2 separate regions of the Homo sapiens genome follow, and region 2 is linked to region 1. The links come from fine-mapping of genetic effects on gene expression. A gene starts in region 1. The other region holds a variant in brackets. All regions are shown on one strand. Distances are between the middles of the regions.

Region 1 (16,799 bases):
GTCCAGCATGGCGAAACCCTGTCTCTACTAAAAATACAAAAATTAGCCAGGTGTGGTGGCGAATGCCTGTAATCCCAGCTACTCAGGTGGCTGAAGCACAAGAATCACTCGAACCTGGGTGACAGGGGTTGTAGTGAGCCGAGATTGTACCACTGCACTCCAGCCTGGGCAACAGAGCAAGACTCTGTCTTAATAATAATAATAATAATGATAATAATAATAATAATGATAGGGCTTACATAACAAAATTATGGGTGGATCATGAGGTCAGGAGTTCAAGACCAGCCTGGCCAAGATGGTGAAACCCCGTCTCTATTAAAAACTATAAAAAATTAGCTGGGTGCAGTGGCAGGTGCCTGTAATCCCAGCTACGGGGGAGGCTCAGGCAGGAGAATTGCTTGAACCTGGGTGGCAGAGGTTGCAATGAGCCGAGATCACGCCACTGCACTCCAGCCTGGGCAACAGAGTGAGACTGTCTCAAAAACAAAACAAACAAACAAAAAAAGAAACTTCAGATAATACAAAGAGCTCCAAAGGGGATCTAGATAATAGAGTTATTATAGACTTATTAGGCAGAAACTTTAAACAACTGTGTTGAATATATTCAAATAAAAAAGGCAAGATTGGGATTTTCCAAAAGAAAATAGGAACTATAATATAAAGCAGGACCAAATGAAGATTCTACAACTAAAAACAACACCAAACCAAACCTGAAATTATGAACTCAATGACTGTTTTTTTTGTTTTTGTTTTTGTTCTTAGATGGAGTCTCACTCTGTTGCCCAGGCTGGACTGCAGTGGCGTGATCTCGGCTCACTGCAAGCTCAGCCTCCTGGGTTCATACCATTCTCCGGCCTCAGCCTCCTGAGTAGCTGGGACTACAGGCGCCCACCACCACGCCCAGCTAATTTTTTGTATTTTCAGTAGAGACGGGGCTTCACCATGTTAGCCAGGATGGTCTCGATCTCCTGACCTCGTGATCCACGCGCCTCGGCCTCCCAAAGTGCTGGGATTACAGGCATGAGCCACTGCACCCGGCCTCAATGACTGGTTTAATACCAGATTAGACACAGTGAAAGAAAAATATCAGTGAACTAGGAAAGAGATGGGAAGAAAATACCCAGAATGAAGCATAAGAAACAGAAGGATAAATACAGAAAAGAGAGTAAGATACAGGGAGTATAGTGACATATGGGGTATATATGCAAGTTGAGTTAAAGGAGTAAAGTGACAATAGATAGAAACCATATTTAAAGAAATAATGGCTTAAAGTTTTCTGGAATTAATAAGAGGCATCAAAGTCAGATTCAAGTATCCCTGTGAATTCCACCCAGGATAATACAAAGAAGACCACACTGAGGCCTAACAAAGCAAACTGCTGAAAACTAAAACAGAGAAAAAATATTGAAAGCAACCAGATCAGGGGTGGGGTAAGATTCTTTTTAAAGGAGCAAAGAATAAGACAGAGATGGTGAGGGAGTGGTGGCTCATGCCTGTAATCCCAGCACTTTGGGAGACCTAGGTGGGAAGATCACTTGAGCCCAGGAATTTAAGATCGGCCTTGGCAACATGGTAAAAACCCATCTCTACAAAAAATACAAAAATTAGCTGGGCGTTGTGGCACTTACCTGTGGTCCCAGCCACTCGGGAGGCTGAGGTGGGAGGACTGCTTGAGCCCTGGGAGATGGAAGCTGCAGTGAGGTGTGATTGCGTCACCACACTCCAGCCTGGTGACAGAGTGAAACTTATTTCAAAACAAACAAACAAACAAACAAACAAAACAAAAGACAGAGATGGCCAAAAAGTCAAGAGAGCTGACAAAAAAAAAAAAAAAAGAAGTCAGGAAAAACTTAGGTCCCTTGATGACAATGTTGAGAAGGCAGATCTCTAGACTTCTTGCTAACTAAACAATAAATGTCTTAATAGTCCAAATCACAGTGAGTCAGATAATGTTACTTATAGCAGACACTAGTCCCGATATAATGCTTGACAGAAGAAGAGACAGTAAAGACTAGTGTTCAAACAAAACTTAAAATAATATTTAAAGGTATAATTGATGAGCATTTTCCTGAATTAAAAAAAGAAATGAATCCTCAGACTGAATACTGTGGATACTAAGCAGGAAGAAAAAAAAAATATGTGTGTGTGTGTGTGTGTGTGTGTGTCTGTATATTCCTACCTGGTTACAATATAATAAAGCTAGAGGACCAAACGTATCAAGGCTACTAAGGAGAAGGCAGTCTGCCTATAAAGAAATGAATTAGGCCAGGTGAGATGGCTCATGCCTGTAATCCCAGCATTTTGGGAGGCTGAGGTGAGAGGATTGCTTGAGCCCAGGAGTTCGAGACCAGCCTGGGAAACAAGGCAAAACTCCATCTCTACTAAAAATATAAAAATTAGTTGGGCATGGTGGCATGCACCTGTAGTCCCAGCTACTCAGGAGGCTGAGGCAGGAGGACCACTTAATCCCAGGATGTAGAAGCTGCAGTGAGCCATGACTGCACCACTGCACTCCAGCCCGGGTGGCAGAGTGAGACACTGTCTGAAAAAAAAAAGGAAATTAGACTCAACAGAAAAACCTATCTAGCTATAAAACTTTGATACAAAACCAGAATAGTACAAAGAAAAAAAATTCAATTTCACCTAGGAACATGTATGCAACAGTCTCACAATATTAGAATAGAGTTCTTTTTCTTTTTGGAGACAGGGTCTTGCTATGTCACCCAGGCTGGAGTGCAGTGGTATGATGACAGCTCACTGCAGCCTTGAACTCCTGGACTCAAAGGGATCCTCCCACCTCAGCCTCCCTAGTGGCTAGGACTACAGGCACACACCACTACACCTGGCCAATTTTAAAATTTTTTATAGACAGAGTCTTGTTATGTTGCTCAGACTAGTCTTGAACTTCTGGCCTCAAGCAATCCTCCTGCCCTGGCCTTCCAAAATGCTAGGATTACAAATGTGAACCACTCCAACTGGTTTAGAATAGAATTTGGAATTGCATATCAGAAAAAAATCAAGACTAATCAAAGTTCATTGAGAAATGCAAGGATGGTTCAACAATAGAAGGTTGATACAATAAACATTTTCTCTAATCTTGTCTTCTCACTTTATTTCATCAATTTGATCTTCAATTACTGATATCCTTTTTTCCACTTGATTGAATCAGCTATTGAAGCTTGTGCGTGCATCACGAAGTTCTTGTGCCATGGTTTTCAGCTCCATCAGGTCATTTAAGGTCTTCTCTACACTGTTTATTCTAGTAAGCCATTCATCTAACCTTTTTTCAAGGTTTTTAGCTTCTTTGCGACGGGTTAGAACATGCTCCTTTAGCTCGGAGAAGTTTGTTATTGCCGACCTTCTGAAGCCTACTTCTGTCAACTCGTCAAAGTCATTCTCTGTCCAGCTTTGTTCCGTTGCTGGCAAGGAGCTGCGATCCTTTGGAGGAGATGAGGTGCTCTGATTTTTAGAATTTTCAGCTTTTCTGCTCTGGTTTCTCCCCATCTTTGTGGTTTTATCTACCTTTGGTCTTTGATGTTGGTAACCTACAAATGGGGTTTTGGTGTGGATGTCCTTTTTGTTGATGTTGAAGCTATTCCTTTCTGTCTACTAGTTTTCCTTCTAATGGTCACGTCCCTCAGCTGCAGGTCTGTTGGAGTTTGCTGGAGGTCCACTGCAGACCCTGTTTGCCTGGGTATCACCAGCAGAGGCTACAGAACAGCAAATATTGCTGCCTGATCCTTCCTCTGGAAGCTTTGTCCCAGAGGGACACCTGCCTGTTTGAGGTGTCTGTCAGCCCCTACTGGGAGGTGTTTCCCAGTCAGGCTACACGGGGGTCAGGGACCCACTTGAGGAGGCCGTCTGTCCGTTCTCAGAGCTCAAACACCATGCTGGGAGAACCACTGCTCTCTTCAGAGCTATCAGACAGGGACGTTTAAGTCCACAGAAGTTTCTGCTGCCTTTTGCTCAGCTATGCCCTGCCCACAGAGCTGAAGTCTATGGAGGCAGTAGGCCTTGCTGAGCTGCAGTGGGCTCCTCCCAGTTCAAGCTTCCTGGGCGCTCTGTTTACCTACTCAAGCCTCAGCAATGGTGGATTCCCCTCCCCCTGCCAGGCTGCTGCCTCGCAGATTGATCTCAGACTGCTGTGCTAGCACTGAGCAAGGCTCCATGGGTATAGGATCCGTCAAGCCAGGCATGGGAGAGAATCTCCTGGTCTGCTTGTTGCTAAGACTGTGGAAAAAGCCCACTATTTGGGCAGAAGTGTCCCATTTTTCCAGGTATAGTCTGTCACGGCATCCCTTGGTTAGGAAAGGGAAATCCCCCAATCCCTTGCGCTTCCTGGGTGAGGTGATGCCCCGCCTCGATTTGGCTCACCCTCCATGGGGTGCGACCAGTGTTCAACCAGTCCCAGTGAGATGAACCAGGTACCTCAGTTGGAAACACAGAAATCACCCGTCCTGTGCGTCAATCACGCTGGGAGCTGCAGACCAGAGCTGTTCCTATTCCCACATTTTCATACTAAAGCGAAAATACATACAATGGTCTCAACAGATGCAGAAAAGCCATTCATAAAATTTAATATTTCTTCACAATAAAAATCTGAGCAAGGTAAGGGCTGGGCATAGTGACTCACACCTGTAATCTCAGCACTTTGGGAGGCCTAGGTGGGCAGATCACCTGAGGTCAGGAGTTCAAGACCAGCCTGGCCAACATAGTGAAACCCCATCTCTATTAAAAATACAAAAATTAGCTGGGCGGAGTGGCACGCGCCTGTAGTCTCAACTGTCCGGGAGACTGAGGCAGGAGAATCACTTGAACCCAGGAGGTAGAGGTTGCCATGAGCCAAGATTGCGTCTCTGCACTCCAGCCTGGGAGACACAGTGAGACTCCATCTCAAACAAAAATAAAAATGAAATAAAAATAAAATAAAATAAATCTGAGCAAGGTAGAGAGAGAGAATTTTGACAAGATATCTATCAAAAACAAAAAGCAAACTTCACATTTAACAGTAAAACTTCAGAAGCACTCCAGTGGAAGTCAGGACCAATACAAGGATGCTAGCTTATCTGTAAATGACAGAACTGGCTACACAAAACTAAAGAGAATTTCAACCAAACCATCAGAACTAATTAAGAGTTTGAGATTATGCTGTACATAATATTTACATTAAAAAAAATCAATAGCATTCTGCCATACCAGTTAATAACCAACTGGAAAATGTAAAAGGAAAAAAGAAAGCCCATTTGCAACTACTACAGCAAAAATAATCTAGGAATAAAAAATAAAATATGGAAAAAAATTTCATGGAGGTAATTATAAGTTTTTTGTTGTTGTTGTTGTTTGAGATGGAGTCTCCCTCTGTTGCCCAGGCTGCAGTGCAGTGGCGTGATCTTGGCTCACTGCAAGCTCCGCCTCGTGGGTTCACGCCATTCTCCTGCCTCAGCCTCCTGATTAGCTGGGACTACAGGTGCCCGCCACCGCACCCAGCTAATGTTTTTTTGTATTTTTAGTAGAGACGGGGTTTCTCCGAGTTAGCCAGGATGGTCTCGATCTCCTGACCTCGTGATCTGCCCGCCCAGTCTCCCAAAGTGGATAATTATAAGATATTTAAGGCAAAAAGATAAATTCCCACCAATTGTAGCTTATACAATATTCATGGAATAAAAACTTACTTGATCCATAAATTCAGCTCAGTTCCAATAAAAATCCCAGTAAGTCTTTTTATAAAGGACTAAGTGTAAAGAGCGCAATTACAAAGAACAGCAATGTGTGGAAACTCTTGACATACTACATATCAAGACTTATAAAATTCTGTAATTAAGATAGTGTGGTGCTAGTAGAAAGTCAGAAAATGCCCAAAACAGAACTACATATTTAGGAAACCTTGATATGACATAGATGGCATTAAAAACTAAGAATAGACTACTCAATAAATGGTGCTGCGACAATTAGTTACCTATATGGAAAAAAAAATTAGATTTTTATACAAAGTCAGTTCCATGTGGATTAAATGCAAATGAAAAAACCGGAAGATTTAAAAGAAAACATACAGAAAAACTGTCCTGATCTAGGTAGACAGGATTTCTTAACCAAGACAAAAAGCATAAACAATAAAATATGACAATTTTGGCTGTATTAAAATCAAAAACATCTGTACAAAAAATTGAACATAAATATAAAGAGGAGAAGCCACACAGTGAAAAATATTAGCAAAATGTAGTAACAAAAAAGGATTAGTTTAACAATACTCTTACAAATTGGTAAGCAAAGATAAAGCCAATAGAAAATTGGGCAACAGAAAAAACAAAAACAGATACAAAAAATAATATATAAATAGTAACATGTAATTAGATATAAAATATATATTATTGTTACATTGTTAAGTTTTAGATATAAAATGCATATAAATAGCACAAACCTAAGTACTAAAATATAAAAACATTACTGGGTATGCGAAACACCAAATAAGGACAATAGTCACCACTATAAAGAAGAATGGGAGAGTTTAGCCGTCTTTTATTTTGAAAAATTCGACATAAGTCTGGCAAATGTTAACACTGTTTAAAGTTGAGTAGTGAATATATAGGTATTATCTTACTCTCTACTGGTCTCTGTGTTTAAAATATTTCACGATAAAGTGGGAAAATGGTTAATTTTACATAAAAAGAACTTTAACAGATGCAAAAAATAAAACCTCTCTCATTCGACAAGCAGCCTAAATGGGGAAAAAAGAACCCACTCAAAAAAAAGGTAGCAGATAATGTCACCGTGGCTTACCAGCCTAATCAAACTTATTACTTGTTATGTATATATCCTTATTAAACTAAGTCGTTACTGTGTTAAAGCATTTTAGTGTTTAAATAAAAGATTTCAGAATACAGCAGAAATACATTCCAATATGTTGGGGTTTTTACGCTTAGGAAAACCTACAATAGTAGGTGATTTGACATTTGAATCACACCTATCTGAATTAAGATGTCCAGCACTACCAAACAAAAGCCACACGAGGCCACGAAACACTCCCAACTCTGCATGTTTTAGCCTTTTTAAAGTCCTAGAAACCAACTGATACTGATTAAAAACCAAACAAAAAAAAAATACAGGCCTCAGAAAAATACACTATTTTGCACACAAAGTCCATCCATAGGCCTCAGATCTAGAACTCCTGCTTTAAAGTTGCTTCTCCAATCTCGATCCGAAACACTGGCTGAGTTATGCTGGAAAAGAATGCAAAGTGTACGGGGCTTGAGTTCCTGTTGCGTAAAACCTTTCCGGCTTTCAGCAACTTCTCGAGAGGTTAACACCTTTAAGGAGAGACTTTGCTCCCTGTCGATGCCGTGGCTGGACAAATGCCGCTCTCAACTGCTACAGACCAAAGTCTACGCTTTAAAGATAGAGAAGCCATTCTGTCAAAGTGAAAACAGAAGCGGTAGGTAGGAAGCCGCCCCCCTTTCTTTCAAGCACAGAGACCCAGAGAGACGCCCAGGAGCTCCCGAAAAAAACGTTGCTGATTAGAGCTGCCGGGTCAGAAACAGCTGTGAGACACTAAAGTCCCCACTGGTAAGCGCCCCAGCTCCACCTCGGCCCCTATCCCCAAGGTTGGGTATTGGTTAAAGGGGGGAAGGGAATACCTCCACTAACAACCGCTACAACCGCCTCCTGCCAAGTCCCCGCTCGGGCCCACTAAACTCACAGCCTGAAGAATCCCACACTCACTGGAAAGTGGGGCCCGGTCCTGGTCCCGGTCCGGCTCCCGGAATTCGGCGGGTCTCCCAGGGTTTGGGGGGAGGTGGCGGCTGGGACGCCATCTCCTCCGCCTCCTCTCGGCTCCCGCTCCTACCCCTGACTGTCCAGGCCCGCGTAGACCAGCACCTGGAGCGTAAGACACAACGGGCAGAACACCGAGCCGTCCACCCCGCCCACCCTTGCAGTCAGGACAAGGCTTGAGTTACTTTGCCAGCTGAATCCATACAGCGGGAGGATGCCACTAATTTGTAGGAAGAAACACGCTCTTTGTATTTGCCCCAGAAAGAGCTGCCTTTCTAAACCTCAGGGTAAAGGCTCATCGATATTTCTGGTAGCGGCTACAACTCCCTAGACGTCGGAGTCCCACCGAGGCTTTTCTGGGAGTGGACCAGTCGGGCTGGGAGTAAAGCCGCACGCACTCCTTCGCTCGTGGGGGAGGTAGGGTGAGGTGGCAAACCAGGCAGTTTTTCGGATTTCCTCTACAAACAAGAAGGGAGAAGCTCACTTAGTCCTAGCGAGAGCGGGCTGGTACTTTTGTTCTAAAACGCACGTTTCCTCGGGGAACAGAATTGCTAGACGCAATAGGTGCGTTGTCTTTAGTCTTCCCTCTTCCCTTCGAGGGCCGGAAGGGGTTAAATCTCAGGCTCCGGCGTCTGGGGAGAAGGTGAGGCGGGTAGGTAAGAGGTGAAGGAGTGCAGACTGGGTGCAAAAGAGGTGTGGCGGGAGAGAGTTCGTTTCTCTCCTGCTGGAGCGGCTTTGTTAGCAAAGGAGGGGTGAGTGGGAAGTTTGTTGCACCTGACCGAAGGGGGAAGGGCTTGCTTGGCGAAAACTGAGGCTTGAGGTTAGATCTCGGGATGAACTTTTCAAGAGTCCACAGTAGATTCCAGAGCTGAATGTTTCAGAAGCCCAGTGAAGTGTGATCACCTCTTTCTCCGTAAATCCACACCCCCAGCCCCACGCCGCGTTACGAATGACACCCTTCGGTAGGGAAATGAGTTTTAAAAGATCTTAGGATATGAGACTCAGTCTGGTCATTTCGCTAGTTTTTCTTATACCCTGCCCCTTTTCTCGTTTTCGATGACTGGTTTTTGTAATCGTCCAAGAGGTGAAAATAAAGTCCTTCCTCTCCTCCAGTAAGCCAGAGACTGGGCTAGTTATCCTTGATTTGGGGAGGAGGGATTCAGTCCTCCTAGGGAGCCTGACACATGAAAGGCGGCTTTGTAGCAACTTGTTACAGAGTTATTTCTATAAAACAAACACATAAACGAAAAGCAAACATCTTGAGGGTAACCAACACTGGAAAACTTACATTGTGGAATGCCTTTCTCAGGGCTTGCTTTCAAACATAATAAATCTAATATGGACAACCGATTTCTAATATCTTATGAAATCCTGGCATTTAATTATCTCACGATGAAAAAACCAAATTTAAGACGTAACGTATTTTCTCCTTTTAATGTTAACATTCTTGAGAAGTTGATAAATTGTTGGTAGGTGAAAATGATGTTGAGAGGTTTGTAAATTCATAGCTCGTTTATTAACACACATTCAAAAGAGGTCTTTTTTGGGGTCTATTTTTAGACCTCTTCAAATTACTCAGGACTGGAAGTTTTGTAATTCTCATCAATCAGGTTTGGGAACTTCTCAGAGCCAGGAGATTGTAATGTGTCATTTATTTACTTTGCATGATACCTTTGTTCTTGTGAACTTACTGGAAAAATAAACATTGTCTTCTAGCCATGGAAAATAAAATAAATTTTAATATAGCTATTTAAGTATCGAGGGAAATCTTCATTAAGTGTCCTTTTAAAGTGCTTATTGATTTATTGGAAGAGGGTGTATTTCTTCTGTCTCTTTTTGAGTTAAATGTTACTTCTGAATTAAGTAAAATTCTTGACCTTAACTAATGGAGAAAAAATAACTTAGAGTAACAGGTGAAACAGAAACAGTTTCTCTGTGTATGTAGTCAGAGATGCACTGTAAATGCTTATATTCGCCCCTCACAGCATCCGATCTCTTCTCTGCATCAAAGTAGATTAAATGGGCTGGGAAAAGGGATCCAGATCACTAGTAAATAGTAATGACTTGACCTTGACCACACAGATCTTATTTATTTATTTATTGAGATGGAGTCTCGCTCTGTTGCCCAGACTGGAGTACAGTGGCACGATTTTGGCTCTCTGCAACCTCTGCCTCCTGGGTTCGGGCGATTCTCCTGCCTCAGCCTCCTGAGTAGCTGGGACTACAGGTGCGTGCCACCACGCATGGCTAATTTTTTGTATTTTTAGTAGAGATGGGATTTCATCGTGTTAGCCAGGATGGTCTCGATCTCCTGACCTCATGATCCTCCTGCCTCAGCCTCCCAAAGTCCTGGGCTTACTGCAACCTCCACCTACTGGGTTCAAGTGATTCTCCTGCCTCAACCTCCCGAGTAGCAGGGATTACAGGTGCACACCTCCACACGTGGCTAATTTTTGTATTTTAGTAGAGATGGAGTTTTACCATGTTGGCCAGGCTGGTCTTGAACTCCAGACCTCAAGTGATAATGCCTGCCTCGGCCTCCCAAAGTGCTGGGATTACAGGCGTGAGCCACTGGGCCTGGCCAGATCTTCATTATTTAGAGGCTGTTTTCCACATATTCTGTTTTCTTTCTTGAAAATACCCTGGAGCCCAAATTTACTTAGGCAACCCTAACTATGCGTTTCTCAATTCTGGTGTTTCAAAGTTGTCACCTTGTCAGCTTGTATGGTGTGTCCATACAAGCCTGATTTTCTTCCCTCTGCTGACTCACATATTCCCCTGAATTAGAATTCAGCCAGAGGCAATCTGTTTTTAGTAGTCCTGGCTGCTGAACTGATTTTTATGGTGAAGAGTTCTATGTAACTATATGCCTGTCTTCCTCATTATTTTGTGCAAGAATCTTGGTAAGTGGCCCCAAACATTTAGCAACTTGCAAGTAAGTAGGAAGTTTTAGAGGTTTGGAAAACGCAGACTAGAAGAATCACGTCTTTATACTAAGCTGTTGGGAGGAGCTTCACCCTTCCACAAATTTTAAGCAAGTTCATTTGAATTATGAAACTGCACAAATTAAAAGATGCCACTGTCGTTCATCTTTATGACCACAGTTACAGCATGCCATAAGATTGCCATGCAATGATTATTTTCTAAAATATGGGCAGTTGATCATTTTAAGGTAATATGAACTGTTTCACTAATTAGAAGATCTTGTTTTGCTGAACAAATTAGGTTGTTTGAATTTTTAGTACCCCCTCCTTCCCGGTAACAGGAGACAGATTTGCCTTCATTCTCTATATAGTATTTTTTTGTGAGTTTATTTAAATTGCAAAAATTGGCAATTTAAGCAAACAGTTGCTCTCAAATATTTTGTACTTAATTTGTTTTTGTTGAAGGTTTTTTTGTTTGTTTGTTTGCTTGTTTGTTTGAGATGGAATTTCGCTCTTATTGCCCAGGCTGGAGTGAAGTGGCATGATCTCGGCTCACTGCACCCTCCGCCTCCTGGGGTTCAAGTGATTCTCTTGTCTCAGCCTCCTGAGTGGCTGGGATTATAGGCACACGCCAACACACCTGGCTAATAGTTTTTTGTATTTTTAGTAGAGATAGGGTTTTACCGTGTTGGCCAGGCTGGTCTCAAACTCCTGTTGTCAGGTGATCCGCCCGCCTCGGCTTCCCAAAGTGCTGGGATTACAGGTGTGAGCCACTGCGCCTGACCTTTTGTTGGAGGTTTTACTCATGAAAGGGGCAGATTTTTATTTTGTTAACAGGTGGTTGCCATTTAGTCATATAATCAAAGTAAAGTTGATGTCTTTAGACCTGCTGATCAACTTTGTTGTTGTTGTTGTTGTTGTTGTTTGTTTGTATTTTTGAGACAGCATCTCACTCTGTTGCCCAGGCTGGAGTGCAGGCGCCAGCCACCACACCCAACTAATTTTTGTATTTTTAGTAGAGACAAGGTTTCACCATGTTGGTCAGGCTGGTCTTGAACTCCTGACCTCAAGTGATCTGCCCACCTCAGCCTCCCAAAGTGCTGGGATTACAGATGTGAGCCACTGCACCCGGCCTCAATTTGTTTTAAATAGTTGGCCGCTAAGCTATCATTAAGGGTAGTCCAGTATTATATAAGGTAGACTGATCAGATTTTTTTGTCTAGTCTGAATGCCAAGGCCCTTAGCCACCTAGAGGTTCTCTGAAAATCACTGACATGAGGCAAATTGATTAATGGGAGAAAAGGCATACACGTTTATGTAATGTGTATACACAGGAGCCTTCAGAATGAAGACATAATGATAACAGGGGAAATTGTCCATTTTTATGCTTAGGTTCATCAAAGTATGGATGGCACATAGAAATATGATTGAACAAAAAGGTAATCAACTCAGTGGGGAAACCCAGCAAGCCTGTCTAGGTTCTTGGCCTCTCAGAGCATGCATTCCTTCCTTCTGGGTGTGGGGCAGGACCTGCCATGGAATGGGGAGTCTTATGACCTACAGTCAGACAAGAGAGGTTAGATCATTTCTTCATCTTTTTTTTTTTTTTTTCTGTTTCTTTTTAGAGACAAGGTCTTGCTCTGTCACCCAGGTTGGAGTACAGTGGCATGATCTTGATTCACTACAACCTCTACCTCTTGGGTTCAAGCGATCCTCCCACCTCGGTCTTCTGAGTAGCTGGGAATACAGGTGTGTACCACCATGCCCAGCTAATTTTTCAATTTTTTTGTAGAGACAGGGTCTTGTGGGTTGTTGCCCAGGCTGATCTCAAACTCCTGGCCTCAAGTGAACCTCCTACTTCGGCCCCACAACCACAAAGTGGTGAGACTATAGATGTGAGCCACTGCACCTTGCCTAGTTTTTCATGGTCAGTTTTTACTCAGAAAGGTGGAGGGAAAATTTGAGTAATAGGCATATGTGTGTGTGTGTATATATATATATATATATATTTTTTTTTTTTTTTTTTTTTTTTTTTTTTTTTTGAGACGGAGTTTCTCCCTTGTTGCCCAGGCTGGAGTGCAATGGCGCAATCTCGGCTCACTGCAACCTCCACCTCCCAGGTTCAAGTGATTCTCCTGCCTCAGCCTCCCAAGTAGCCGGGATTACAGTTGCTTGCCACCATGCCCGGCAAATTTTTTTTTTTTTTTGTATTTTTAGTAGAGACAAGGTTTCACCATGTTAGCTAGGCTGGTCTCAAACTCCTGACCCCAGGTGATCCACCCTCGGCCTCCCAAAATGCTGGGATTACAGGCATGAGTCACTGTGCCTGACCAAATTTGAGTAATATTTTTAGATTTTATGGCTGGCTTTGGGGAAAGGGGGTTCTGGTTTCTATGACTCACTTTGAGGAAGAGAGACTGTAGTTTTTCTATGGCTAGTCTGGGGAAGAATGAGACAGACAGGAGGGCAGAAGGTCAGAGAAAAACTTTTGCTTCTGAGGCTGCTGCTGAGGCCTTCATTTTGGGGTATGGCTTTCTGAGCCCCACTACCAGCAAACTCATTTTTAATTTCTTACAGGAAAAGTTTAATGAATTAACTTTGTACAATACTGAATGGTACAAAACAAAAAGCAAAATTTCACCCTGTACCTCTGTTTTCATTACCCTCCTCAGAAGCAACCATTCTTGATTATTTTTATTTCTTTTGATCAACTTAGTTATATTGATGTATTTTATCATAATCCAAAATGCTACACTAAATTCCTTAGCAATTAGAAACCTTTACCGGATCCATCTTATGAACTTCCTTAAAATTTGTATTTTATAATATGTGTGTAATGAAAGGGGCTTGGTTAGAGAGTACACAATAGTGTTTTTCAAATGAAAGCTAGTTTTTATCCCTAAACATGATGACTTGTCTGTGACAGTAAAACGCAGAAGCTGCTCATTAGTTTTACTTCTTTTCTTTCTAGTTATAATTATTCAATATGTTCCCACTGACTGAGGAAAACAAGCATGTGGCCCAGTTGTTGCTCAATACTGGTACTTGTCCAAGATGTATCTTCAGATTCTGTGGTGTGGATTTTCATGCACCTTACAAACTTCCATACAAGGTATTTTCTTTTCTTTTTTTTTTTTTTTCAAATTAAGAGAAGGTTCTCTGTATTTTACAATGAATGCTTGTACTTTTGAGGGCAGGTATCTATTCATAACTCTTTTTTAAATTAAAAAACTATAATAAAATGAGTGATATTCATAATTTTGGAATAGTCTCAGAAATGTAAGTTCCTTCTTAAGTGATTATATCTAGCTTTCTAACATTTAGTGTAATGGGATCTTTGTGGAGGAACTCCCTGGTGCATTTGAACACTTGTATAGATGTTTCCTAAAGGATATCTAAACAGAATATCACAAAATATTGCTTCCTCCCAGGAGGGGCTAATATTCCTTACATGTCCTACTATGTGGAAGCATTGTGGGTATGGTTGCCTTTTTCTGTTTTTCCCATTTTCTGTATTACCAGTTGTGTTTATAAATAGGTATTTGGAATCCTCTAGAAATAAATGCTTATCATCATTATTACTGTTATTAATGACAAAAGTAATATACAGAGATCTTTGACATTTATGGTAATATACAGAGAGCTTTGAGGTTTAATATAACACTTTTTTGCATAAGATATGTAACATCTTTATGAAATGTTTGATTCTAAAAGTGATATTCTTTTTAGAAGCAGATAGTAATACATATGTAAATATATACATTATAAACAGTATGTATACAACATATACACACACAGTTTCTTATAATTTAAAAAATTGTCCAGGAGTTAGTAGTATCAGTTATTTTTAAAATGTTATTAGTTGTTTCTATTATTTTGGCAATAATAATACACAATATTCAATTATCATTACTATATGTCAAGGTCTTATATAATTCTCATAATAACTGATTAGGTAAGTACATACTATGATTGTCTCTATTTTCAGATGAAGAAACTGAGATACAGAGAGGTTAAGCAACCTGCCCAAAGTTACACAGCTATTAAGTGAGCAAGCTAGGATTTGAACAGTCTGACTGAATTCAAAACCTAGGATTTGGAACTAGAAGACATGGATTTGAATCCCAGTTCCACCACTTTCCAGCTTCAGTTTACTCCTCTGTAAATGGGAATGATGATAATACCCACCTCACAGGACTTTAAGGGACAATACCTAATAAAGTACGTGGAAACACTTTGAAAACCAGAAATTGGCTGGGTGCGGTGGCTCACGCCTGTAATCCTAGCACTTTGGGAGGCCGAGGCGGGTGGATCACGAGGTCAGGGGTTCAAGACCAGCCTGGCCAAGATGATGAAACCCTGTCTCTACTAAAAATACAAATATTAGCTGGGCGCCATGGCAGGTGCCTGTGATCCCAGCTACTTGGGAGGCTGAGGCAGGAGAATTGCTTGAACCCAGGGGTGGGGGGTGCGGAGGTTGCAGTGAGCCGAGATCATGCCACTGCACTCTAGCCTGGGCAACAGTGTGAGACTCCGTCTGAAAATTAAAAAAACAAAAACAAAAAACCAGAAATGGTACTTGTGCTATGATGATTTAAATATGTGTATATTCATTTATACACAATATGACTGTAAAGTAATAAGACTGGTTTTGTGTAACCCTGCTTACACATTTTTTTCAGACACACTGTAACCTATTATCTATTATATGTTATTAGGTTTTAAATTTATATTATATTAAGAGACTGAGTGTTATCAACTTTCGTTTGTTTCATTTTATGTAAGGCAATATACAAGAATATTTGGACAGCTTTTTGGAAATGTTCATAAATTTTGATCTGTTCTATTCATGTAACTATGTATGTACATGCACATCTGTATATGCACTATGTTATATCTATATTATAGATCTTAGGTAACAACAAACATATTTGTGTGAGTCAAAATGTACCTGTATATGTATGTATGTATGTATATTTCTCTGTTAAAGCAGGAGAGCTAATTTCTCAATAAAATGGATTTAAATTTGTTTGAGTGAAAGATTTTTTCCCTTTACAGTCAGTAAATTGTCATCTGAATGAATTTGAAAAATATACTTTTTCAACAATGGCATAATAAAACATGTCTAAACAAAACAGAGGAAAATCCTCTGAGTATTTTGATGAGAGGAATATCTGAATGAGAGAAATATGAGAATGGTTTCAAAGAAATGCAGGTTTTTAAATTCTAATACAAGACAAATTAGGCAAACTGGAATATAGTAGAGCATGGCTTTCAATTAATATATGGAAATGGTTTGTAATCATATGCTAACTTTCAGCATTGTCAGCATTTGTGTACCTTTCTTAGTAAATTTTCTCCAAATTATTTTTACTTATTAGACTACCCTAATGATCAGATTTCATATTAAATAAATATTGTACTTGTGAGCTTTCAGTGATTGTGAGGTTATTAAATAACCTAGCAAGGATGGAAATTCAGTTTGTACTTTTTATATGTTAATCATTAGAACTAAAGTTTGTTTTTACTGAAATTAGCAATGAATGACTCTCACAACAGAACTACAAATTAATAAATTTGTATTGGAGCCTTTCTCCTCAGATTTATGACTTTTGCTTCACTGATATATGGAACTCTTTTGAAAAAGTATTCACATATATAATAGAGATAGGTAATTCTCTTTTAAATTCCATAAAAGCCAATGCTGGCTAATAACTGGATTGCTTCAGAATTGATATGTCAACATTGTAAAATTTGTGATATGTCCTAATTTTCACTCATGTTTTCTTGTTTCATCTTACCTAGAAAGCCTTAAGGACATTGTCAGTGGGTCATTACTTTTTCTTTCATTAACTTTCCAGGAGTTGCTCAATGAACTACAGAAATTTCTGGAAACTGAAAAAGATGAATTAATTTTGGAAGTTATGAACCCACCTCCCAAGAAAATTCGACTGCAAGAACTGGAAGATAGTATTGATAATCTAAGTCAAAATGGAGAGGGAAGGATCTCTGTTAGTCATGTTGGAAGCACTGCTTCCAAGAACTCAAATTTAAATGTATGTAATGTATGCCTAGGAATTCTTCAAGAATTCTGTGAGAAAGATTTCA
Region 2 (16,799 bases), 32 kb before region 1:
AGAGAGGGGGTTTGGGTGCCCTGAGGGTGGATGCCCATAATGGCCTAGCTGTCAGGACATTGAGCACTGGGCCACTAAGTAGAGTGGGCAAAAGCTGTTCATGATTTCCCATCCTTACACACAACCTTCAAGGGAGGACTGAAGTGATTCCAGAATGGTGGTACTCCCACACTGCCAGCAGAGGCAGAAGCAAGTCCTCTGTGGAGTTAATCCTAGACAGGTGTGCTCCAGTAGCCAGTACACCTTTCAAAATACACTAATTATGGATAACCCAATGTTTCTCAGAATTTGCTCAGGGTCTTGCCCAGTGATCTCCCCAGAAAAGGCTCTTGTAAATTCTCAGAGGAACTGAAGCCAGTCTTATGACCTAGTGCTTCTTTTCAGGTTATCGTCACGCAGCACACCTCACCAAATAGTGGTAATATTGCCTTTTCTGTATACAGCTAGGTTTCTGCATGTTACCCTTTTAATTTTAATATTTGATAAAATAATTTCCTTAAAAATTATATCAAGTAAGAATACAAAGGTTTAATATCAGAAAAATCAATGTCATCTACCATATTACTAAAGGTGAGAAACTAAAAACCATCTAGACAAATGAATATTTCTTTTATTTTATTTTTTTGAGACAGGGTCTTGTTCTGTCATCCAGGCTGAAGTGCAGTGGCGTGATCATGGTTCACTGCATCCTCAACTTCCTGGGCTCAAGTAAACCTCTCCTCAGCCTCCCAAGTAGTTGGGACTACAGGCACGTGCCACACAGGTACGTGCCACCATGTCTGGTTAATTTTATTTTTTTGTAGAGATGGGGTTTCATCACATTGCCCAGGCGGGTCTAGAACTCCTGAGCTGAAATTATCTGCCTGTCTTAGCCTCCCAAAGTTCTGGGATTACATGTGTGAGCCATTGCACCTGGCCCCGCTAATGCAGATTTAAATTAGCTATAAAAGAGAAAAGCTTTCGGCCGGGCACGGTGGTTCATGGCTGTAATCCCAGCACTTTGAGAGGCCGAGGTGGGTGGATCACAAGGTCAGGAGATTGAGACCATCCTGGCTAACACCGTGAAACTCTGTCTCTACTAAAAAATACAAAAAATTAGCCAGATGTGGTGGCGGGCGCCTGTAGTTCCAGCTACTCGGGAGGCTGAGGCAGGAGAATGGCGTGAACCTGGGAGGCGGAGTTTGTGGTGAGCCAAGATTGTGCCACTACACTCCAGCCTGGGCGACAGTGCGAGACTCGTCTCAAAAAAAAAAGAGAGAGAGAGAAAAAAAGAGAAAAGCTTTCGATAAAGACTAGCATAAAACTCACAGCAAATATCACGAGTTAATAGAGCAACTTTAGAATCTAAAGCAGAAATAAGATAAAAAAAAAACCTGCTACCACAGTTAGTGCTAAATATAGACTGACAACTTGGCCAAATCAACAAAAGAGAAGTATAAGCACTTTGGGAAGCTGAGGTGGGAAGATCATTTGAGGTCAGGAGTTCGAGACCAGCCTGGCCAACATGGTGAAACCCCATCTCTACTAAAAAAATACAAAACTTAGCCAGACATGGTGGCGCTCGCCTGTAGTCCCAGCTACTTGGGAGGCTGAAGCAGGAGAATCGCTTGAACCTGTGAGGCAGAGGTTGCAGTAAGCCAAGATCACACCACTGCACCCCAGCCTGGGAGACAGAGCGAGATTCTGTCTCAAAAAAAAGACAATGTTGTACTGGGAAAGAAACTGACACATACCAACAAAACAGAGAGCCCCCAGTTTCATGCTTATAGAACTTGGAATGTAATGAAATGAGATGATACGGATTATGTAGTAGATGGTGTTAGAAAAACTGACTGCAATCCTACTTGGCATGTTCTGCAGACATTCACTCGGAAAACCCAGAAGAATATAACTTGGCACCAAGGTCACTTAGGTTGGCAGAAAGATATAGCACAGTAAACAACTGGCATGTAGAGGAGGCATCCTCTTTAGGTAAGCCTCATGTGTGATAGGGAGCGCTATCTTGTAAAAAACCCTCAAGGCAGGTTCCAGGTCCCTACAACTAGGAACAAGCTTGGTTACCGGTTTCATATCTTACTCAGATAAATCAACATCTGTGTTTTGTCTTTTTACAGTTAAAACAAACAACAAAGGCTGCCTGGTAAAGAGTTGACTTTCCATATTTATCTTAACTTTGTAGGTTACCAAGGAAACAGTGCTAAAAAGAAAGTAAACCCAAGATCATTTTTCCCCAGAGCAAGAGAAGGGGTTTTGTTAACTCTTTCCTTTTAATGACTAGATGGAGAAAAAGTTGAATTCATACCTCATACTATATCCAAAAATTAATTCCAATTAAATTTAAGACCTAAATGTAAATGGTAAAACTATAAAACTGATAGAAGAACAAGACCTATGGCTGGGCGTGGTGGCTCACACCTGTAATCCCAGCACTTTGGGAGGCCGAGGTGGGCAGATCACCTGAGGTCAGGAGTTCGAGACCAGCCTGGCCAACATGGCGAAATCCTGTCTCTACTAAAAATACAAAAAAAATTAGCTAGGTGTGGTGGCATATGCCTGTAGTTCCAGGTACTCAGGAGGCTGAGGCAGGAGAATCGCTTGAACCCGGGAGGCGGAGGTTACAGTGAGCCAAGACTGTGCCACTGCACTCCAGCCTGGGCAACAAGAGGGAAACTCCATCTCAAAAACAAAACAAAACAAAATAAAGACATAAAAGATATAAAACATTGGGGGGATTTCTATTATATGAAAAACAACAAAGACAAGAATGAACAAATGGCAAGTTATTTCCAACATCTGAACTTGACAAGAAAATAGTATCTACATATAAAGAATTTCTTGGCTGGGAGCAGTGGCTCACACCTGTAATCCCACCACTTTGGGGGCAGAGAGGCAGGCAGATCTCCTGAGCTCACGAGTTCGAGACCAGCTTAGGCAACATGGAGAAACCCCATCTCTACAAAAAAACACAAAAATTAGCCAAGCGTGGTGGTACGCGCCTTTAGTCCCAGCAACTTGGGAGGCTGAGGTGGGAGGATGGTTTGAGCTCAGGAGGTAGAGGTTGCAGTGAGGTGAGATCACACCACTGCACTCCAGTCTGGGCGACAGAGCCAGACCTTGTGTCAAAAAAAAAAAAAAAAAAATATATATATATATATACACACACACACACACATATATACACATATATATACACACACACATATATATACACATATATATACACACACATATATATACACACACATGCACACACTGTATATACTATACTGTAATCAGCAAGAAAGAAAAACTTAATAGAAAAGAGACAAATTATAAGTACAGACCATCCACAGAATGGAAAATCGGAATGACTAAAAAGCAAATACTCACCTTCATCAGTAATCAGATAATGCAGATTAAGAAAAAATACAATTTTATACACATCAGATTAGCAAAAATCAGAAAATATCAAGTGCTACTGAAAATGAAGAGAAAATGAAACCCTCAGGTCTTGCTTGTGGAAAGGAAAACTGTGACAACCATTCCTGAGAACGATCCAGCATGACTTAAATTAAATATGCATATACCTCAAACTCCAGCCTTTCTACTCTAGGACATATATAGCAAAGAAATGAAAGGGCAGGTTTCCTGAAAGGGCATTCTTCCTTCATAGGAAGACATGTATAAGCTTGCAGAAGTGGAAATAGCTAGGAAAAATATAAGTATTTGTGACTAGAGGAAAAGATAAGCTTTGGCATATGAATACAATAGAATAATATGCACCGGTCAAAAGCACATTATAGGCCAGGCGTGGTGGCTCACGCTTGTAATTGCAGCACTTTGGGAGGCCGAGGCAGGTGGATCACGAGGTCAGGAGATTGAGGCCATCCTGGCTAAGACGGTGAAACCCCATCTCTACTAAAAATACAAAAAATTAGCCGGGCGTGGTGGTGGGCGCCTGTAGTCCCAGCTACTCGGGAGGCTGAGGCAGGAGAATGGTGTGAACCCGGGAGGCGGAGCTTGCAATGAGCTGAAATTGCATCACTGCACTCCAGCCTGGGTGACAGAGCGAGACGCTGTCTCAAAAAAAAAAAAAAAAAAGCACATTATATAAGTAACGTGGGTAGGTCTTAAAAACCTAATACTTCATGAAAGTTAGGAGAATAAAATTTATGCCACAATATCATTTATGTAAAAAATTTAAACATATAAATATTATATGGTTTTCAAGAAACTATATCCAAAACATGAGAGATGGCTTGGAAGGACAAATATTAAATAGGGAGCGTAGAGTATGAAATTGCAGGAGGGAGATGAATAAAAACTCTTAAGGTAAAACAGAACACAAGTATAATTCTATTTTTTGAGATGGAGTTTCACTCATCACCCAGGCTGGAGTGCAATGGCATGATCTTGGCTCACTGCAACCTCTGCCTCCCAGGTTTAAGTGATCCTCCTGCCTCAGCCTCCAGAGTAGCTGGGATTACAGGTGCTCGCCACTATGCCCGGCTAATTTTTGTATTTTTAGGAGAGATGGGGTTTCACCATGTTGGTCAGGCTGGTCTTGAACTTCTGACCTCAGGTGATCCACCCACCTCAGCCTCCCAAAGTGCTGGGGTTACAGGGTGAGCCACCACACCCACCTCTCTCTCTCTATATATATATACATATATATAAATTTTTTTTTTTTTGGAGATAGAGTCTCGCTGTGTTGCCCACACTGGAGTGCAGTGGTGCAATCTCGGCTCCCGGGTTCAAGCAATTCTCCTGCCTCAGCCTCCCGAGTAGCTGGGACTAGAGGTGTGTGCCACCATGCCTTGCTAATTTTTTGTATTTTTAGTAGAGACGGGATCACACCGTGTTGCCCAGGCTGGTCTTGAACTCCTGATCTCAGGTGATCCGCCTGCCTCGGCCTCCCAAAGTGCTAGGATTACAGGCGTGAGCCATCGCACCCGGCCCCTGTATTTTTTAAAAAGCATTTTCAGGCCTGGCGTGGTGGTTCATGACGGTAATCCCAGCACTTGGGGAGGCTGAGGCGGGTGGATCACCTGAGGTCAGAAGTTCAAGACCAGCCTGGCCAATGTGGTGAAACCCCGACTCTACTAAAAATACAAAAATTAGCTGGGCATGGTAGCGGGTGTCTGTAATCCCAGCTACTAGGTAAGCTGAAGCAGGAGAATCGCTTGAAACCAGGAGTTGGGGGTTGCAGTGAGCCAAGATCTCGCCATTGCACTCCAGCCTGGGTGACAAGAGCAAAACCCTGTCTCAAAAATAAAATTAAAATTAACATTAAAAAAAAGCACTTTCATGTGAGGCAGGTGTAGCAGCTATGCCTATTGTTATAATTTAGGAAACTGAAAAATAAATAATGGGACTTAAATCTTACAGTAAGCAGTGATGTCTAAACTAGAATCTAGATCCCCCAAAATCTAGGTATGAAGTGTTTTTATTTAACACACCTGTAGGTAATTCTATATAAATGTATTATTTTTCTTTTTTTTTTGTTTTTTTCTTTTTAGATGGAGTCTCGCTCTGTCGCACAGACTGGAGTGCAGTGGCGCGATCTCGGCTCACTGCAATCTCTGCCTCCCAGGTTCAAGCAATTCTCCTGCCTCAGCCTCCCAAGTAGCTGGGACTACAGGCACCCACCGCCACACCTGGCTAATTTTTGTATTTTTAGTAGAGACGGGGTTTCATCATATTGGTCAGGCTGGTCTCGAACTCCTGACCTTGTGATCCGCCCGCCTTGGCCTCCCAAAGTGCTGGGATTATAGGTGTGAGCCACAATGCCTGGCCTATTTTTCTTTAAATCACAAAGAAACAGAACAGATAGGTTTGCAGTAGGTAATATATACAATAATGTTAAAGAGATACTTCATATTAATTCTAATCCTGCAAAAGTGTTAACAATTTATCTTAAAAAGTCAATCAAGTTTAACATATTTTTATTTCTCCAGTAAAAGTAACTTCACAACCTACTAAAAATAAAAATTTAACTGCATTCAGTTTCTGTTCATTTTTCTATTAAAGAAAGCACAAGATAAAGGATAGCTGTGTTCAAGTAAATGTGTAATTATGACACAGACAGAATCAAGTACGTACATAAAATGTTAAAACATGAAAATGTATAGTTCTTTTACCATTTCCTTTCTGAACTCATAAAATATAATCAGAAAAATTAAAAGAAACATGTTTTATTATTGTAAACTTATATTTTATTTAATTAATAATGTTTTGGTGTGTTAGTAATTTCTGTAAAGTAGCACTCCTTAAATAAGTTCCTAAAAATAATATTGGAGCCTTGAACATTTAATCTCAGCTAAAAAAATTATTCTAAAACTGTCATGATAAAAAAGGTTACAAAATTTCTCTTTATTCTAGTCCTGAATTCCTTCTCCAGAATTTTAATACAAAACGAATTTTCAGGCACAAATAGTCACCAGATAATGCATACCGTAATTTAGCAGACTTAACCAAACAATAAACACCCCTACAAAAGTGTCACTATTTTATCACTTTGTGCTGTACTCTTCTCCCTATACATCTTTAATAGTGGTCACTTCTACTTTACTTCTAGCATTCAATTTAGACATCTCAACCCCAAATTTAATAATCTGTTTTATCAAACATTTGTTTTGAGAACAAAATTTCTATAAATTATCTGACAAATCAAAGCAGAACCTTTAATTGTAGAACACAAATGAAAAATAATATACAAGAAACCTTATCTCTTCAACTTCAAGGCTAATACCTGGGTGTTGGAAAACTGGCCAAAGATAAATAAATTTTACTATATTTATTTTTCTGCACTGGGTCAAGATTTCTATTATAAATGATATGTTACTTACGATACTGTCGTTTCAAAAAAGGGCTTTCCAAGAAGCCTTTAGTAAAGTTCTTCTATGCTGGGTATGTACTTGGTTCCTGTATGTTTTAATCTGAACTATTCGAGAATTACTTATTTGTTGAACATAGTCTATTAGAAAAAAATACTAAATCGCTGGGTGCGGTGGCTCACGCCTGTAATCCCAACACTTTGGGAGACCGAAGCGGGCTCATCACGAGGTCAGGAGATGGAGACCATCCTGGGTAACACGGTGAAACCCCGTCTCTACTAAAAATACAAAAAAAATTAGCCGGGCCTGGTGGCAGGCGCCTGTAGTCCCAGCTACTCGGGAGGCTGAGGCAGGAGAATGGCGTGAACCCGGGAGGCGGAGCTTGCAGTGAGCCGAGATCGCGCCACTGGACTCCAGCCTGGGCGACAGAGTGAGACTCCGTTTCAAAAAAAGACAAAAGAAAAAATACTAAATCACAATTTTTATCAAACAGTTCAAAGTTTTCAACAATATCTATAAATGTATTCTTATACACCTGTATTCCTGATAGTATTACTCTGTAGTATGTTCGTAGCCAAGTATATGAAGTTTCCAATTTTCTGGGGAAATATTCAGTGTACTGAAAGTTAACTGCATTTAAAATCATTATAAACCAAAAAACACGTCAAATAGCATTATCGTATTATTATTTTTTGTTTGTTTGTTTTGAGACAGAGTCTTGCTCTGTCCCCTAGGCTGGAGTGCAGTGGCATGATCTCAGCTCCCTGCAACCTCTGCCTCCCGGGTTCAAGTGATTCTCCTGCCTCAGCCTCCTGAGTAGCTGGGACTACAGGTGCACGCCACTGCACCCAGCTAATTTTCGTATTTTTAGTAGAGACAGGGTTTCACCGTGTTGGCCAGGCTGGTCTCAAACTCCTGACCGCAGGTGATCCGCCCGCCTTGGCCTCCCAAAGTGCTGAGATTAAAGGCATGAGGATTATCATATTCTAAATGGCAATAGAGCACTAAGACTATAAATAAGTCTCAGTAGTAAAAACTAAACCTAAAAGAAAAATGTATCCAATGTGACACATTTTCAATATTTACAGAGCATCCTAAATATGGAATTTAAAAAATTACACAAGGTAGAAGCAAACAATCTATGAAAATATTAAAAATTACTATTATAACTGATTATATCATTAAGTGCAAACTCAAAAGAACTCAAGTATTTGTTGTAGGAAAAGAAAGTATACCTTTCATATACTTCTGATTCACCCAGTATGAAAACTAGTCATATTTTAAAGAAATAAATAATTTTATTTTTTGAGATGGAGTTTCGCTTTTGTTGCCCAGGCTGAAGTGCAATGGCGAGATCTCCGGCTCAGCGTAACCTCCGCCTCCTGGGGTTCAAGCAATTCTCCTGCCTCAGCCTCCCGAGTAGCTGGGATTACAGGCATGTGCCACCACACCTAGCTAATTTTGTATTTTTCGTAAAGATGGGGTTTCTCCATGTTGGTCAGGGTGGTCTTGAACTCCCAACCTCAGGTGATCTGCCCGCCTCAGCCTCCCAAAGTGCTGGGATTACAGGCGTGAGCCACCATGCCTGGCTTAAAGAGATAAATAATTAAGGGATCCTTAGAAGAAATGGAACAGTTTGTAAGAAAGATAAATTTCAGACTTTTTGCTAGGAGGGAAAACTATTAGGGCTACATACTCTATAATTCTAGAACCATTTCCTTCAGAATGCTTCTGGGTGACCTTTTCAAATTAAATTTTTAAAAATACAGTAAAAGATAGCAGTGTCAGTTGTTTGTGGGTGAAAATATAAACCCAACACTGGATATAATACAGATCAGAAAATTTTATTATTGAGATTACTTAAGGTTGTAAAAAAAAAAAAAAATTTACCTTTTGCCTGTTCTCATACTGACATGTCACCACTCCATTTCTAAGGATTCCAAGTCAATTAATGCAGAACTTTTAAAAGTATTAATGATCTCTACTGTACCAAACTGTGCATGCTATAGTTCATCAATCTTACTCTTCCAATAAACCTAGAGATTTAAATAAGATAAAAATGACAGCAGTCTCCATAATCTTAAAATCTAGGTGAAACAAATGTCCTTATGGTCCAATAATGTGTATAATAAAATGTAACCAGGTCACCAGACCAACATACTAGTGTGTAACTTTAATAATTTCTAGCAGCAAAACACCTGAAATAGCCAATAACAAATGTTTTCATTGGATTGTACATTCATTTCTTTGTGAGAAATAATTTTAAAAAGTACTCTAAAGTATTGTTCAACTGCAGGCAAACATGAAAGATATCAAAGATCTTGCTTTTCTCCATCTTTCCCAATGGAATCAGGTGCAACTGGAACCTTATTAGTTTCAACAAAAACAGATTCAAAGGCAGCTTCCTGTTCATCCAAAGAATCAGCAACCGTGGCTCCTTTAGTTA[G/C]TGTTGGGTTGGTAAAAGATTGTTGCTGCTTGGAAACTTTACTTGATTCCACCGTTTTCCTACCTTTTCTTTTGCCAAGAATTTTGACATAATTCGCAGGTATAAGTCCTGTTGTTTGGCCATCAAGGCTAGCCAGAAGCCAACCACGCACTTTGGGTTGTTGTTCTGATGGAAAAAAAAGACAGTCTTGTAATTACAATATACTTTGGAGGTCCAACAGAATAGTAATGGTAAAATATCACATTCAGGAAAATCTGTTATGCTTACATAGTAGATAACAAATAGTACATGCATATATATTCAAAATCAAATGCTGAGTAGGCTTAACAGTTCTAGGGTCCATTCTTCTATTTTTATTTTATACTTACTAAATATTTCCTTCCACCTTGAAGAACATAAAGTTTATTATCAGTTGGTCCATTCATAGAGTAGGGAGATTTAGTTCTCTCAAAACTGAAAACTAACATCAATGTCTTTCATATTTTAAACTGGAGTCTAAAAAATGAATATCTTATTCCTTCTCAACTGGGTAAGTTAGGAATAAGTATAGAAAAGATATACCTTTAATGCACTCAGCTTTCTTAGCCTACTTTTGGCAAAAATATAAAATTCGTTTCATGTGATTGTAATAAACAATCCTGAAGACAGTAAATATTAATTTCAATCCAAGATGGGCAAAAAATTGAAGACCTTTGTTATTTCTAGCCATATGATAAATAAAGGCAATACTCTAAGCTTAAAGAAAGATTATTTAATGTACTCAATTTTCTATTGTATTTTCCTATTTTATCTATATCTTTAAAAAGCTGCTTAACTGTTACAATTTTAGTTCAACATTATAATTTAGGCACAATATAAGACTTTTTAATGTTTAATGCTCTATAATAACAGGAAAAAACAAATTTACCATGTCTACGACCGATTTTGTTCCAAAGGCCCAAACATACTTTTCTTGAGCAATGGAGGAAAGCCAAGAAGCAAGCTAGTGTTAAGAGGCACTATTCATTGAAGAATAATGAAATATAAAATTTTTCTGAAGTGTTATGTAACTGAAAGAAACCACATGACCTCTAATTAAAATTATCTGTGTTGTTCCTGTCTCTAACAACAAATCTTTAAAAAATCATTCGTTTGAAATCCAAAATAGTAAATTGCTATTTTCCCTATAAGAAAAATATGAATAGGCCCAGCGTGGTGGTACACATCTGTAATTCCAGCACCTTGGGAGGCCAAGTCGGGCGGATCACAAGGTCAGGAGTTCGAGACCAGCCTGACCAACATGGTGAACGCCTGTCTCTACTAAAAATACAAAAACTAGCTGGTCGTGGTGGCATGTGCCTGTAGTCCCAGCAACTCAGGAGGCTGAGGCAGGAGAATCACTTGAACCCGGGAGGCGGAGGTTGCAGTGAGCCAAGATCGTGCCACTGCACTCGAGCCTGAGCAACAGAGCTAGACTCTGTCTCAAAACAAAAAAAAAAGAAAGAAAAATACAAATAGAATACCTAAAAGTCTAGAGGTTTGTTTTTTTTTTCTTGAGACAAGGTTACACTACGTTGCCCAGGCTGGAGTGCAGTGGTGCTGTTCCACAGGTGTGATTACAATGTACTACAGCCTCAAACTCCTGGCCTCAAGTGATCCTTCTGCCTCAGCCCCTTGAGTAGGTGGGACTATAGGTGCACACACTGCACCTCGCTTAAGTCTAGGTTTTTTGTAAAAGGGATGAGGCAAAGATTTAGTAATCTCATCCAAAATTTTCAATTATTTACATAGTAATGATTTGAACATTGAAAGTATTTCTTCCCTGCAAAAAATGACTAAAACCAAAAAAAGGGTGAAGTTTCCATAAATAGATCCTTCCATGAAAAAACAGCCAGAGTTGTTAAAAGCACAAGGTCTCAAGTTAGACAAACCTAGATTCATAGTCCAGTTCTATTGCACCTTTGCTTTGTGATACTGGACAATTTACTTATTCTGAGTCTCAGTTTCTTCAAGGGTAAAACAATGACAGGATAATAATAGTACCACTTCACCGTATTATTGTAAGGCTTAAATGAAATATGTAAAATACAGTACCTTGTACATAGTAAGTACTCAATAAATAACATGTTATTGTTATTAGTACCTTTATCAACAAAACATCACTTTTTGCAATAAACTTGAATCCCCATAAATACACATATTTAAAAAAATCCATAAAAATCCTGATAATCATTACTCAGGAAGGGTGAAGGAAAAGGTCATTTTGCCTAGAGTCATTAAAAAGTATCAGTGACTTGGTCCAAAAATAAACCCGAGATGCGTATAAATCTCTTGCTGGGGTTCTATAATACTTCATGACACTATTTCCTAAAATACTTATGATGAAATTTCTGAGGTAAACACTGCTGAAGTAATAAAGAAGCAACACCAGTCCACAAGGACTAACAGCAATGCTTAGATGATGTTACATAATTCCTTTGCTTTATTAGATTTGTTATGTTTAGTTACTGACATCACGTTTTTGTGTGGGGATTAACAGTTTGAAATTCAAGTATTTTGAGTTTAGAAAAGCCTATATAAACAAAGCCTTTCCTTATCTCAGTGAAATAGTATTCGAATAACTCTGCTGGGGCATTTCTTCCTGACTCCTCCAGATTTGGAAGCTCTAAATTGACATGAAAAAGAAGTTCTAGTAACTATCTCTAAGTTAACTAACAATGAACAAGATCCTTTGTTGTAGTTTTTAATACTGCATTTATGAATATCAAAATTTACAGATAATTCCAACTTATTCATAATTTATTACCTTTGAGAGCTAAGTTCAGCATATCACCAGCCCGGAAAGAAATTTCTTCTTCAGATACGGCAGCAAAATCATATTCTGCTCTGGCAACTACATGGTCATCCTCACCACTTGCCCAGTTGATGCTGTCTATAAGCCAAATTAAAATTAGGTTAATAAAATTTACAAAAGAAAAATGCAGATATTTCACTGGCTATGGCTTGCAAACTGCATAAATTTGCCAAGAGAAAAGTCCTCCCCTCCCAAGTAAAAACTATAATGAATACTATGTTAAATCAACAATAGATCCACTAAAGATACCTATTATGAACTTTTTCCTTTCTTTAAGCTCCAACTTCCCGCTCTCTTACCGTGAGCCAGGGGTTGGCAAATTTTTTCTGAAAAGGGTCAGATAGTTAATATTTTAGACTTTGAAAGCCAAGAGGCAAAACAGGATATTGGGCAATTACTTTTATAAAAAGAGGAAACAAAATTTCCATAAATTTATTGACAAGATTAAAAATATAATAACCATGTTTCTTTTTGGTAATACAGGTCTATTTGGAAGTTACTTAGAAGAATGAAATATTTTGGGGGAAGGATATTTCACTTAATTGGAAATCAATTATAAATATTCACTTGCTAATTCTAATTTGTAATAAAATTTGAGGTACTGCATTTTTGAAAATGCCTTTTCACACAGATAGGTAATGTCAAATCCTAATATGAGTCTATGAGTATGTGGTTTTAATTGAGCATATTTATTAGTTGGGAGAGTAATAGGCCAGAATATAATTCTGTTAAATTCTTCTCTTGATATTTGCCTTTTACCATGTTATTACATTGCAGATTAATCACTTCCAAATGAAGATTAAGTGGAAGTTCCTCAATTGCATAGTTAAATGGATTTTGAAATATGGAAATTTCCTTTGTGCTTGCATGGAGGTCCAAAAAATGCTCTGGCATTGTATTAATAGCTTAAGCTTGGAAAATGTATCTGCTGCCAACTTGCGTGGGAATGGAGATACTGCTTGTGTTAACTTCTGACAGTCTGAGAGGTCTATAAAGCAGTGTGACATTACTTGTGAGTCAAACTGTATTAGGTGTTGTCAAAACTTTACTCCAGCATAAGTTTTGCATATAAGCACTGTTCTGCTTTGTGGTTTCCGTTTGAATTACTTAAGAATATAGGTCAGGCGTGGTGGTTCACACCTGTAATCTCAGCACTTTGGGAGGCCGAGGCGGGTGGATCTCCTGAGGTCGGGAGTTTGAGACCAGCCTGACCAACATGGAGAAACTCCATTACTACTAAAAATACAAAATTAGCCGGGCATGGTGGCGCATGCCTATAATCCCAGTACTTTGAGAGGCTGAGACAGGGGAAATTGCATGAGTCCAGCAGTTCAAGACCAACCTGGGCAACATAGGGAAACCTTGTTTCTACAAAAAAATAAACAAAATTAGGCAGATGTGGTGGCACGCGCCTATAGTCTCAGCTTGAATCGCTTGAACCTGGGAGGCAGAGGTTGCAGTGAGCCGAGACTGCACTACGCACTCCAGCCTGGGCAACTGAGTGAGGCCCTGTCTCAAAAAGAAAACAACAACAAAGAATATAACTAAGTCTGGGCTGGACATGGTGGTTCATGCCTGTAATCTCACTCAGCACTTTGGGACGCTAAGGCAGGATTGCTTGAGGCCAGGAGTTCAAGACCAGCCTGAGCAACACAGTGGAATCTCGTCTCCACAATAAATAAATAAATTGGCCAGGTGTGGTGGTGTGTACTTCTAGTACTAGCTACTTGGGAAGCTGAGGTGGGAGAATCATGTGAGCCCAAGAGTGTGAGGTTGCAGTGAGCTATGATCACGCTACTGCACTCCAGCCTGGCTGACAAAGCAAGACCCTGTCTCCAAAAAGAACTCAGAATTTAACTAAGTCTGCAGTAAAAGGTGATTTCCAAAGCTGAATGGGTTTAATAACAATAGCTGAAAAGGAGTTCTGTTCAGAAAAATTTCATTCTTGGCCTCAATCTCAAAAAAAATAAAATAAAACTTAAACCTTGTTCTGCCATTGAATTGCCATGCGGTAGGGCAAGTCGGGATCTTCAGCTTCTGTATCTGACAAAAATTCACAAAACTGACAATGATTATGTCACAAGAGTGAATAAACTTTACCTTGACACTACTAGTTCAATAACACATGATAAATTCAAATATTTTCTGCAATGTGGCTGCTGATAATACAATGAATAACCATAAACAAAAAAACTGTATTTTCAAAACCTTTGTAACTTTTGTCCAACTAGGCCTTTTCCTGCTCCACCTAGAATTTTCACCATTATCAGGTGCAACACATCTTAGCAGATTCAGGTTGTACGGAATCAGTGTTTTCACCTTCTTTGAAAATGTTCTTGTCTGTAGTTGAACCATGACTATTCATAGAGGCTAATTCTTCAGTCATTTCCAATTCACCATTGATTTCTCAAATAAACAACTAAGCAGTACTGTCTTTTTTTTGAAAATTTGTTTTTTTTTTTTTTTTTTTTAGTAGAGACAGGGTTTCACCACGTTAGCCAGGATGGTCTCCATCTCCTGACCTCATGATCCGCCCGCCTCGGCCTACCAAAGTGCCAGGATTACAGGCATGAGCCACCGAACCCAGCCTGTCTTTGTTTTATGCTACTTTAACAGAATACTACAGACTGGGTAATTTGTAAACAATGGAAGTTTATTTGCTCACAGTTCTGGGGGCTAGGAAATCCGAGATCAAGGGGCATTTAGTAAGGGCCTTCTTGTTGTGTCATAACATGGCAGGAGGCATCACATGGCAAAAGAGTGCATGCGAGAGAGTAAGAGGGCCAAACTAGCTTGTATAACAAACTCACTCTCGAGATAATGAACTCACTCCCATGATGACAACATTTAGCCAACAGATTTAGCAAGTATTAATATCCATTGGGTCATGATGAGCCAAGGAAAAACATTCAAATCATTTGTCTTATTTTAAGTTGGCCATGTTGTTCAAAATGCCATCAACTCTTCAAGGAACTGTTCTCACTGAGAAGCTAATAATCTTAAACAAGTTTACTTTCTCTGGACATATTTTTTTTGGCTGTTGCAATGACCATGAGTAAACAGGTTTCCTTGCTTGGGTAACATATGAACCTCTCAGGAACTTATTTTGGTTGCAGCCTCATTTTATTTTATTTTTATTTTGATGCGGAAATTCTGCTGTGATGAGAATTCCATTTTAAATTTTCTAATTTTTTTGACTGTTGATTTTCTGTGATGAGTGCTCAATCTGGTAATGCTGATATGTAGTATAGCCATTTAACATAGCTATAGTGTCATTGTATAATAAATACAGTTTTTTTTACTATCTAATTCAATAACGAAATAATTCATACTATACTGTGCCTTGAAAATATGACACTCAAAGTACACTTTTTTCTTGTGTGTCATATATGAATTCATAATTTCAAAAAAAACCCACTGTAGTATAACAATGTATATATTACTCATCATGCTATCAAGTTATAACTAAGTTACTGAAATTTGTAGTGGGCAGAGCAAAAGTGAAGCCATCGGAATTTCACATATAGTCTCTGTGCAAACTATTCAATTCCACTGTTACAGTGGAAAAGCAGCCATAACAATATGTATGGAAATAAGTGTGGCTGTGCTCCAATACAACTTTATTAATGAAATTTGAATTCTATATAATTTTCACATCACAGATTATTTCAATTTTTAAAACATTCTTTTAATTTCCCAGCAACTGAAAAGTATAAAAACCATTTTTAGCTTGTGAGCTGTACAAAAATAGGAGCAGGCCAGATTTGGCCCACAAGCCACGGTTTGCCAACCCCTGCTCTAAGAGCTAAAGTAATAGGACCTCAATTTTGCTTCTCCTCAAAAATCTCTTTGTATCATTACCGATTTCCTCTCCTTTTGACTCAGATAAAAAACCGTCCTTCCTTTTTACCTGCCAGGTTCCGTAAGATCACACCCTCTCTTACTTCCTATAGTAGCTTCTTCATCATTTAACTCCTATCTTTCCCTTATTTATAACTGCTCCTTCTCTACTGACTCCTTTCTTTTAGCCTAAAAACATTCTCAGATCTCCTCACTTCTGAAAAGACAAAGCAAAACAAAAAACTGACAATCTCCCACAACAACTTGATCACTCAATTTGGCCATTCTTTTCCTCCCTCCTTCCATTCACTGCTAATCTTTTCTTTTTCCACATCTTCTGACTTTATTTACCCTTTATCCTCTGCTACAGTTTCTGTCTTCTCCACTTTACCAAAACTACTTGCTGGAGCTTGATGACTTCCAGTTGCCAGATCTAATAATCTTTTCTCAGTTCTTGATCTTATTGTAGAACCTTACATCATTCATCATCCTTCCACTCTTCCTCCATAATGTAGCAATAATATGGTTCTACTTCTGTTCTTCCTGATTTCCATCTTAGTCTGTCTTCTTTTCTATCTTTCTATGTATGATAGTAGTATCATTCACTTATATTAGTTCTTCCATTTATTTATTTTGAGACGGGGTCTTGCTGTGTCACCCAAACTGGAGTACAGTGGTACAATCTCAGCTCACTTCAGGCTCAACCTCCAAGGCTCAAACCACCCTCCCATCTCAGCCTCCCAAGTAACTGGGACTATAGGCATGCACCACCACACCCGGATACTTTTTGTAACTGTTGTAGAGACAGGTTTTCCCTATGCCGCACAGGCTGGCCTTAAACTTCTGGGCTCAAGCGATTTGCCAG

What was found.
Region 2: its variant is fine-mapped to the expression of PEX13 in whole blood (TOPMed, PIP above 0.99).

The regions. Positions count from the first base shown.
Region 1 is chr2:61,008,769-61,025,567 of GRCh38, reverse strand. PEX13 (peroxisomal biogenesis factor 13) reads right to left here and starts at 7,848. Exons shown (of 4, transcript NM_002618.4): 1 at 7,717-7,848. The coding sequence starts at 7,808. PUS10 (pseudouridine synthase 10) reads left to right here and starts at 7,313. Exons shown (of 18, transcript NM_144709.4): 1 at 7,313-7,560; 2 at 13,663-13,803; 3 at 16,553-16,799. The coding sequence starts at 13,678. RefSeq lists enhancers at 7,392-7,441, 12,968-13,137.
Region 2 is chr2:61,041,099-61,057,897 of GRCh38, reverse strand. It overlaps PEX13 (peroxisomal biogenesis factor 13), which reads right to left. Exons shown (of 4, transcript NM_002618.4): 3 at 12,047-12,172; 4 at 5,908-9,426. The coding sequence ends at 9,128. Among named protein-coding and RNA genes, the nearest start is that of SANBR, 16 kb to the left of the region's middle. The variant G/C (reference allele first, on the strand shown) is at 9,262.